2 separate regions of the Homo sapiens genome follow, and region 2 is linked to region 1. Evidence: fine-mapped expression QTL. A gene starts in region 1. The other region holds a variant in brackets. All regions are shown on one strand. Distances are between the middles of the regions. Region 1 holds the start of CD40 (CD40 molecule). Region 2 has its middle 31 kb from the start of CD40.

Region 1 (5,230 bases):
ATGTAAACCTCACATCATTGCCAAGAGACAAGAACCAGTATCACTTCTCATAAATAAAAGGTAACCCTAAAAATAAATTCTGGGGAAACAAAACAAGGTTATTAAAACCCAGCTGGTTGTTTGCTTGTTGAAGGCCCTCCCAGGCCTGCTCTTGATTTTTGTTTTAAAAGAAGGATTAGCAAGCCTTTGAGAGGCATTAACTCTATTCTAGCTCCAGAGACTTCCTCTTTGAAAAAATGAGAAGGATTTTTAAAAGAACTGTAAAGTAAGTGTATGTTTAATTCTATGTCCATGTGCTCCTTAAAACTGTCCCACAGTTTGGGAACAGCCAGTGAAAAGAACACAAGTTTGAGAGTCAGACAGCTTTAGACTCCAGTCCTGACTTTGTAACACTTACTAGTTATTTTGCTTCTCTTAGCCTCAGTTTCTCTATCTCTAAAATGGGAGTAATAATGCCTGCCCTGCAGGTTGGATTACGAAGATAAGAAAGAATACATGTATATGGCCTAGCACAGTGTCAGGAACATAGTAGGTGCTCATTAAATGGCAATTTTAATCATCATTCATTTGTTTCTGCTTGCATGATATATGGCAAGCAGCCCGGCTACCTGGCTGGCTGTCCAGAATCCTACCTAACTGGTGGCTCTCATTCAACCTGGGTATCTCAGCAAATTACTTACAGAAATGTGTCTTACCCAAAATGGGAAAGGAAGTAGAAAAGGCTACTGCCCCCCACCAGCTCATTGCAAGACACCATCCTGTGAACGTGGAGCTCCCACACTCCCAAAGATAGGAAAGTCCTTGATACCATCTTCAAACACATGAGAAATAAAACGCTCCCCTAAAAGTCTGTCAATCTCCAGTTCTCACTCCCCATAGTTCTGGTCCTTCTGCCACAAAACAGCTCAGGACCAGAGCTTGGAGACTCTCACTATCTGAGAGGCAGGCTCGGGAATCATGCAGATGTAGATTCACAACCAGGTTCTTCCATTAGCTAGCTATGAGACCTTTGGCAAGACAATCCCCCTTTCTGAGCCTCAATTTGCCCATCTGTATAATGGGGGAGTTGTGAGAAATCAGACAAAGAAAACAGGCAGTGTTTGGCTCAGAGCCTGACACACAAGAAGCCCTCAATAGATAGCTTCTGACATTGTTGTCACAGCCCAGCCTCTACCTGGAGCCAAAGTTGGGAGTTATGAGGGCAAACTCTGCTCTTGAGAAGCCTGGATCACACCCTTCACCCCACCTCCTCTGGCTCTTTCTCCACTCCTACCACAAGGGCCCCCCTTTACCTCTTTCCAGCTCCGCCCTCCCCCTGCCTCCCTGTTCCCTAAGAGCCATTGCTTCAGGTGAAAGTGAAAGCTGTGGGACCAAAGCAGCCTCCCCACTCCCTCTCTTCCCTTGCTGCTTCCCTTGCTTTCCTTGATACCATGGGTCATTCCTGCCCAGGCTTCAGGCAGGAATCTACAGCCCTCTAAAGTAGGGGGAGGCCAGAGGGGCTGGGATGAAGGAGCCAGGTACTTGGGGGATTCCCAGCCTCCAGAATGAGGAACTACAAAAATACATTTAAACAAAAAGTGAGTCAAGTGTAGGCTTCTGAAAATCCCGGAGATATGCTTGGTTGGCTCTGAGCCCCTCTGGTGCCTGGAGAAACCCCTGGTTTCTCCAGCCCTCTGATCACCAGCCCTGTCAGAGCCAACCAGAACTCTGGTCTCCTAACCCTTTATTGTGTCCCATAAACTGTTCATCTCCCCAGGGGTCTCCTATGTCATCTTAAATTCAGGAGAAAAAGGCAAAGCCCTGGGGATTCCTCCTAGGTTGGAACACCCAAGATACGGTTCGGGGTGGAAGGCGATGTTAAAAGCTCCTTGCCTTCTCACAAAAGTACCTGGGCCTCTGCACCCATCTCTTGTTCCCACAAGATGCCCTGGAAGAAGGCAGCCCCAGCTGGCAAGGAGATGATAACTACTTACAGAGGCTGGCATCTGTCCACAATAAGAAGGGGACAGGAAACGGGCCAGACCCGCCCCTTCCCTTGGTCCGCCTCACTTCCCGCCCTCTGAACCCCCTACCAGTCTCTGTGTGGCCAGCCTCTGAGGCTCCCTAAACCCGTCCAGGCCGTCTAGGCACGCTTGGGCAGCCAGTGCCTTCCCTGAGCGGCCCCTGTAGGCCGCTCCCGGGACCCCAGCCCGGGAGAAGAGAGAGGCAGCCCACCCCATTCAGCCAGGAGCGGGGGCACCTTGCCCAGCTCCCACCCACCCTCCTGCCCCCACAAAAATCAGCCAGGAAGGCCTCTTCCCCGAAGTCTTCCTTCCCTTTCCTTCTCATTCCCCACTCCCAACTCCCGTCTGGTCGGGGCAAAAACAACTCACAGCGGTCAGCAAGCAGCCCCAGAGGACGCACTGCAGAGGCAGACGAACCATAGCGAGGTGAGACCAGGCGGCAGGACCACTGGGCGCCCGAGCGAGGCCTCTGCTGACTCCCCTGCCCCAGCCTTGGCCCCGCCCAGGAAAGGGGCGGGGTCTTCAAAGACCAATCGCGGTCCACCTATCGGGGGGGCGGAGCCCCCAGCAATTCACCGCGCAGGAGTTTCCCCAGAACATTCCCACAAGTCTAATTCCCCCGGGAGTTTAGGGACGCATCTTGCTGTGTACGGGAGGAGGCATGGTCCCAGAGACAGCTCTTCTTCTTTGCCCCCAGGTCCCACAAAGGCCAAGCCGAGGCGGGCTAGGAGCTAGCCTGCTTCCTGCGACCGGAGAGAGATCCCATGGGTGCTGGGGCCTGCCACAGGGACCCTCACGGTTTTCCCCTCCCTGCCCCGCTCTCCGCTGCCTCTAGGTATCCTGGCAGAACCGAAAGAGGCTCCACTGCGGAGAGGCCTGAGGAAGTTCCCCCCACACCACCACGCAGAAAACGGGAAGGCCACAGCTGGGGTATGGGGAGGCGTTTCAAGGAAGAGTTTCCCAACTCAGAATTTCGCTCTCTTTCAAAGGAAATTCCCTCGTGTGGGCGCGTCGTCTCAACTTCCCATCCATTCATCCATGCATCCATGCGTCCTCACCTCATTCCATTCCATCCCACCTCCCACCCAGCACCTGGAGACAGGCATTTATTAAGAGTGGGGCCGGGCGCGGTGGCTCACGCCTGTAATCCAGCACTTTAGGAGGCCGAGGCGGGCAGATCACTTGAGGTCAGGAGTTCGAGACCAACCTGGCCAACATAGTGAAACTCCGTCTCTACTAAAAATACAAAAATTAACCGGATGTAGTGGCGTTCGCCTGTAATCCCAGCTACTCGGGAGGCTGAGGCAGGAGAATCGCTTGAACCGCAGAGGCAGAGATTGCAATGAGCCGAGATCGTGCCACTGCACTCCAGCCTCGAAGGCAGAGCAAGACTCAGTCTCAAAAAAAAAAAAAATAAATAATAAATAAAAATAAAAATAAAGGTGGGGGCCAGGCGCGGTGGCTTACGCCTGTAATCTAACACTTTGGAAGGCCAAAAAGGGAGATTGCTTGAGGCCAGGAGTTCAAGACCAGCCTGGCAACATGGCAAGACCCCCATCTCTACAAAATAAAGAAATTTTTAAGTTAGCCAGGCATGGTGGCAAACACCTGTAGTCCCAGCTACTCAGGAGGCTGAGGCAGGAGGATCGCTTGAGCTCAAGAAGTCAAGGTTGCAGTGAGCCATGATTGCAATGATTACATCACTGCACTTCAGCCTGGGCGACAGTGCAAAACTCCATCTCAAAAAAAAAAAAAGAGTGGGCCAGCCTTTTGTGGCATCATAAAACACTTTAAGTATGTTAGGAAACTCGGGACCCTCTCATTTTGCAGAAACACACACACTTGTGCCTACATTTCCTGGGTTCATGAACTCTGAAGACGTGCTTTTGTTTTTTTGTTTTTTGTTTCGTTTTGTTTTTTGGGTGTTTGTTTGGTTTTTGGTTTTTGGGTTTTTTTTGACAGAGTCTCATTCTGTTGCCCAGGCTGGAGTGCAGTGGCATGATCTCGGCTCACTGCAACCTCTGCCTCCTGGGTTCAAGCAATTCTCCTGCCTCAGCCTCCCGAGTAGCTGGGATTACAGGCTGGCGCCACCACGCCCAGCTAATTTTTGTATTTTTAGTAGAGACGGGGTTTCTCCACGTTGGCCAGGCTGGTCTCAAACTCCTGACCTCAGGTGATCCGCCTGCCTTGGCCTCCCAAAGTGCTGAGATTACAGGCATGAGCCACCGCACCTGGCCCTCAAGATGTTCTTGAACCAGTGTTAACACTCTGCTTTGCAGCATGGAACACCTGGGTTCTGGTGCAGCCTCTGCCTCTGAAGGACTGTGTTCCCTTAGGCCTAAATTTTTCTCCAAGGAAAACTTAGGAGCTTGAACTAGACAACGGTTGAGGTGATGACCCTCCAAGCTCTCAATTTCTGGAAGAGGACAAGAGGCCAGACCTCACAGATCAGGGAGGATGGAAGAGGAGGACACTTCTAACCCCATTCTCATGGCTTCTGCTGTTAAGGGCACATTTGCAAGTCTTGTGGATTCTGCCTCTAGGATCCATCCCTTATTTTCTGTCACCTCTGCCACTGCCCTAATTCAGAGGGTGCCATCTTTCATCTGGACTGTCCCAACAGCCTCTCTCATTCCACAGGATTTATTGAGCACCTACTATGTGCCAGGCAACTCTTTACACTGCTGCGATTCTCTTGATAAACTCCAGATCTGATCGACTGGGACACTTTCCTGCATAAAAGCCTCTTTGGGTTTCCCTGCACCCTCAGGATGATCCAAATTTCTTATCCTGGCAAAGCACACCCTTCCTCACTCAGCCCCAACCTCTCTTTCTATGCTTACTTCCTGCCACGTCCTCCCATGCACACTGGCTTCAGCCTCTCCCCACTTCCCAGGCACACAATCTTTTTTCCTTACGGTTTATCTCATTGCTCTTGATGTTTCCTTCCTTTCCTTCTCCTTTCTTAAACAGTTTAAATGTTGCCTCCTCTTACACCTTCCCCAACTCCCTGAGGCAGAGGTAGGTACTCTATCCCACCCTGCCTCCTCCCCTGTGTTGCCACAGCATTTAGCATGCCAGCTCATAACTCCTTCTGCCTGGTCCCATTTGACTGTGAGCTCCCTGAGGGCAGGACTGGATCTATCCCAGTCCTAGGTACATAATAGGACACCAATATATGGGTGCTGAATGAATGAATAAATGAATGAGTGGGTTCAGCAACTTCT
Region 2 (5,482 bases), 31 kb before region 1:
GCCCCTCTGACCCCATGACCCCTAGGAGTAGGCAGGGGCCAGGCTGAAGCTCCTTTTTCGTGATGGAAAGTCACTTGGGCCCTAGGGGCCAGTCCCAGGCCCCACCAAGGTCCCACCAAGGTCCCGCCGAGGCCCCACCAAGGTTGGGAACCGGGCTAAATGGAGCAGGGAGGATTGAATGGAGGACGCCAGCCAGGGAATCCTAGAGAGGACACCAGACAAGATTCAATTAAAATGCCAGCCTTGGTGAGTTCCCCATTTTAATTTTCAACAAATTAGCTTATAAAGGGGGGGATGGAAATGAAGATATTAGATTTTTTTTTAGAGCCAAAAGGGAAAATCTTTTGAGGATTATATTCCTTATTTCTTTTTAAAAAATAAAATAAAATCACTCTTAGCCAGAGGATTTGGGGGATTTTCGGGCTCTACCCCCCTTGGAGGTGATTTTCAGGACCTGCCTGTTACGTGCAGGATGGTAACGGCTTTATAACAGAGAGCGCCGTCTCCTGAGCCAGCACGCACTGTGCGCCTTCCTCACCAACCCTCAGGTCAGCATCATTGTACCTGTTTACACGTACCTGAGGCCCAGAGAGATGAAGTGATTTGTCTGAGGTCACACAGCTAGGAAGTGGTAGAGCCCAGTTCCAGCACGCATGTGTTTCCCACTGCAGCCTGGCTCTTGTTCAGCCGAAGACCCTGGTCCAAGCCTCGTCCTCACTCCCTGGTCCCCATCACCCCTCTCCAGGAAACTGCAGTGTTGAGAATGGAGAGACAAATAGACTCCAGCCTGCCTGCTGCATCCTGCAGGACCCGCCGGAGGCCATTAGTATTCCAGAGGCCCCACAGACTTCCTGGCCTTCACCCAAGGTGGGGTAGGCCCCCCCTCCTGGCTTCTCCAGTGATTTCTGACACCACCACCACCACCCCCAATGCAGGAGCTGAGTCTTGGTCTGCCCTTAGGTAACCTAAGCCTGGGATCCAGACCATCCATCTCTGTCTTCTGGCAAAGGCCAGCCCCTGCCCTTTCCCCCAAGTGACTGGCCCTGGCAGCCAGTGCTCTTGGTCTCACCGCAATGTCCTCCACTCCCATACCCCCACCCCATCCTCCTGTCTACTGAAAATAATTCGTTTTGCCAGTGTGGAAATAATACAAGCTTAGATTCAGCAACAGCATACCCTCCCCAGCGTGCCACCTAGGCAACAGCCCCCCACCCCCGCCACCGAACTCCAAATCCCAAGGGCATTCCCAAGCTCTGCTCCAAGACCTGGGGCAGCATCCTGGCAGATACAAAGCTCCCACTCTTCTGGGCTGTGTGCTCTTGGGCAAGTGGCTTAACCTCCTTGTGCCTCCATTTCCTCATCTGCAAAGTGGGTATTATAAAAATCTAGCCTGAAAGGTTGTGGTAAGAGTTCAATGAAAGCACAGACTTGCCAGGCCCTGGTACAACAGAGGATGCTTGGCAAATGTTACCCTTTCCCTCCAAAAACTGGAGGCAAAGGACCTAGTTGGGATGGAACTCTACATGGGAAGAGGTAAGGGAGGGCTGAAAGAATGAGACAAAGCTCCCATGCCAGGCGTAGTGGCTCAAGCCTGTAATCCCAGCACTTTGGGAGGCCGAGGTGGGTGGATCACCTGAGGTCAGGAGTTCAAGACCAGCTGGCCAACATGGTGAAACCCTGTCTCTACTAAAAATAGAAAAATTAGCCAGGTGTGGTGGTGTGCACCTGTAATCCCAGCTTCCCAGGAGGATGAGGCAGGAGGTATCGCTTCAACCGGGGAGGCGGAGGTTGCAGTGGGCCAAGATTGTGCCGCTGCACTCCAGCCTGGGCAACAGAGCGAGACTCCGACTCAAAAAAAAAAAGGGCTTCTGGTACTGGAGTCCATTGAAGCATCGGGGAGCCCAGGGACAGATAAAAATGTCTCCGCCGCCTTCCTGGCCCCGTAGAAAGAGCTTAGAGTCACAGGGCAGGTGCGCAAGGGCAGACCTCAAACTTCCCAGATCAGTGGTGTTGCAGCAGCTTCCCTGCACAAGGACCGGAGCCTGGGACTGGAGGTGCCAGATCCTCAAGGCTTGGTATGAGCTTGTTGAGGGGGTAACTCTCAGATGCTGCTGGTAGCTAGAGGGCTGGAGTCTAGCTTGGGCAGCTAACTGAATCTGGGGTTATGCCAGATCTGTGTGTGAGCAGAGGTTTGGGGGATGTCTGCACTAGAGAATGAACCCTGAATTTGGGGCTGGCTCTTGTAAAGC[T/C]CCAACCTCAAGATTCGGCAGATCTATTAGGTGGGTGCAAAAGTGAATGTGGTTGTTGCCATTCCTTCCAATGGCAAAAATCGCATGGATGCTGTGAAAGCTGAGATGGACCGCAAGCCCGTCTATGAGCCCACGCCTGCGAGAGATCAGAATTTGAGGTAAGCCATGAATTTGGAGCGCCCTCACAGTGAACCTCAAAATCTTGGAGTATCTGTGAGCTTATGTACGGGGGTCATCTGAATCTGGATGTGAACTCACATCCAAGGAATGGGGTCTGTTTGGGAACCCAGTTTATGGGGGCCACACCAGTCCTAGAGGTGTGTTTGGGAAGGACGCGGGCCTCTCAGGGCAGTAAGGAGTGACTCTATGGCAGATCCCGAGCAGCTAGTGAAGACCCAGTTCCCCATCGTTTTGATCATCCTGCACCCCTCTTTCAATGCACACAGTCCTCATAACCTTGGTCTCACCACTGCCCACCATCCTGTCCTCCCACCCCCAGGTCTACTCTGAATTGCTACCTCTCAGGGAATTACAGTTGCTGAACTCCAAGTCTCAGGTGCGCTCACATTCCTTCCCTGGGGCAAGAAGAGTCAAGGGATGAGGGGAGAAAGAGCCCGCCATTCCCTCCTCCTCCGACAGCGTAAATCCTCCCCAAATCGCCCTTCAGGGCCCAGGAAAAGCAGATCCGATTCTTGGGGAGCTTGGAGGCCTGCTGCCTTATCTAAGTCTCTGGAACAAGCATTTTGCATTTATTTCCCCAAATGTGTTGCCGAATTGCGTTCCAGCCCATGGCTCCCAGCCATCTGCAGAGAGAAATCCAGTTAGACCTTGTATAATAAGTTCCTGACAATCTTGCTGAGGATGCTGGGTCATAAAAGTCTCCTGGTTTTATCGCCGGTAACAGACACGGAGTGAAATTGAGTTGTCTTATCAAATTTAGATAATATATATCCCTCTAGAGTAGCAGGCTCTGCATGGGGCTTTCATGGTATGAGCCCAGGAGGGGGATAGGGAGTGGCAGAGTGTTCCTGGGGATGTGGCTCAGGGTGGGGGCCGTCCTGGAAAGCCTGGCAGGACTGACAGGCAGCAGGGTAGGGTTACTAGCATCCCAGGTTTCGATGTCAACAAGACCTGGATTACAAACCTGTGTCTATCATTCCCATGCTGAGTGAACTTGGAAAATTTACTTTACTGCTGAGGGCCTTGGTTTCCTCATCTGTAAAGCAGGCAGATGCCTGCCCCCTTGATTATTGTGAAATGTAAACAAGATGCTACATGCAACAGGCTTAGCCCAGTGCTTGGCATGTAGTGAGCACTCAATACATGTTGTCTGTGGACTGGACATGGCAGCTCACACCTGTAATCCCAAGGCAGGAGGATCGCTTGAGGGCAGGCAGGAGGATCGCTTGAGGCCAGGAGTTTGAGACCAGCCTGCACAACACAGGGAGACTCTGTTACTACCAAAAAATAAAAATACAAAATTAGCCAGGCATGGTGGCCTGTGCCTATAGTCCCAGTTACTAGGGAGGCTAAGGCAGGAGGATCACCTGAGTCCAGGAGGTCAAGGCTGCAGTGAGCTATGATCACACCACTGCACTCCAGCCTGGGTGATACAGCAAGACCTGTCTTAAAAAAAAAAAAAAAAACTCTGTAATTTGGGAATGGGAGAAAAATACTCTCTGGTCCATTCTCTTCCCATTTTACCGGTGGAGAAACTGAAGCTCAGAGAGGGAGTGGACATGGATGGTGGTCACACAGGCAGGCGGGGTTCTCAGTCTCTGCTTCAGGGCTGAGCAATCCCAACTGACTGCCCCCGCAATCAGGCCTTCTGCAAGAGGCTGGAAGTTGCCCTTTCCTGCCTCTGCTTAAAGTCCTGCCATCCAGTGCCTTGCCCAGGAAATGGACATACACGGTAGGAAGCCTGGGTCCCTTGGCTCCAGGAATGGACTCTCAGGACATTGCCAGTGCCGGGCTTCTCTAGGGCTCCCCAGCTGGTCCTGGGAAGCTTGTCTCACTGTCCCAGGAGGGGACGATCGTACCAGAATTGACCTACTTTTCTCCCACAGCCAAGATGCCTCTCTCTGGCAACTTCACACTTTGGTTTACATACCTCCAGTGATGTAGAGATCGTTACCTTACCAGGCAATCATTCCGTTTCCCTATCTTGGACTTAAGACAACCCCAAATCTTCTGACTTCCAAGCTAAGACTCATTCATTCTAGAACCACACCCTGCCACCACAACTTTCTTTCAGCAAGGCCTGAGTATGTGTGAGCCTGCCTGTGTGTTGGTGGGTTTCTCTGTGTGTTCCGCACTGTGAGCTCTGAAGGGAGAGGAAATGAACTGGTAACAGTTCTGTATCCCCAGGACTCAGGGCCTGGCACACAGTAGGCACTCAAAAAAAAAAAAGAAACAGTCACACAATAGCTAACCTTTACTGAGCACTCCGTGTCAGGCATGAATTCCATGTGCTAATTTATTTAATCATTATAATAACCCTGGGATGCAGTTACCATTATCTCCAGTTTACAGAGAGGCAACCTGAGGCAGAGAGAGGTGAGATAACTTGCCCAAGGTCACACAGCCAAGACACGGTAAAGCCAGGATTTGAATGGTGAGAGTCCAGAGCGGTTATTCATACCTCCCAGGTGAAGATTATTTGGAATTAAAAAAGGGAAGGGGAAAAAGGAAGGGCAGACCCAGGTAAGTATCTCTGTCTCCCCCAAATAGCCCGGCTTCTGGAGGGCAGGAAACATATATTACTCATCTCTCTCTCTCCCAGAATCTAGTACAGTGCTTGGCAAACATTAGTGGCCAGTAAACAAGAAATGTTTATTGAATGAATGTTTAAGCCAGGCATGGTAGCTCACACTTGTAATCCCAGGACTTTGGGAGGCTGAGGCAGGAGGATTGCTTGCATCCAGGAGTTCGAGACCAGCCTGGGTAACATAGAGAGATCTTGTCTCTACAAAAAATGAAAAATTAGCCAGGCATGGTGATGCACACCAGTAATCCCAGCTCCTCAGGAGGCTGCTGGGGAGAGAGGGGTCTCAAGGCTGCAGCAAGTCGTAATCGTGCCACTGCACTCAGCCTGGGTGACACAGTGAGACCCTGTCCTCAAAAAAAAAAGAAAAGAAAAAAGAAAAAAAATCACACATGAATGTTTATACATCATAGGCATATTTTTCTCCCCCACTATCCCTAGAGCCCTTGAGGATCAGGAACTGAACTAT

What was found. PIP is the estimated chance that this variant, and not a neighbour inherited with it, causes the effect.
Region 2: its variant is the best candidate, but not a certain one, in a credible set for the expression of CD40 in fibroblasts (GTEx, PIP 0.75).

Annotation. Positions count from the first base shown.
Region 1 is chr20:46,115,537-46,120,766 of GRCh38, reverse strand. CD40 (CD40 molecule) reads right to left here and starts at 2,453. Exons shown (of 9, transcript NM_001250.6): 1 at 2,373-2,453. The coding sequence starts at 2,423. RefSeq lists enhancers at 97-186, 1,231-1,580, 2,591-2,650, 2,416-3,232, a silencer at 2,455-2,674 and a cis regulatory region at 1,174-3,271.
Region 2 is chr20:46,146,541-46,152,022 of GRCh38, reverse strand. No RefSeq gene overlaps it. Among named protein-coding and RNA genes, the nearest start is that of CD40, 31 kb to the right of the region's middle. The variant T/C (reference allele first, on the strand shown) is at 2,250.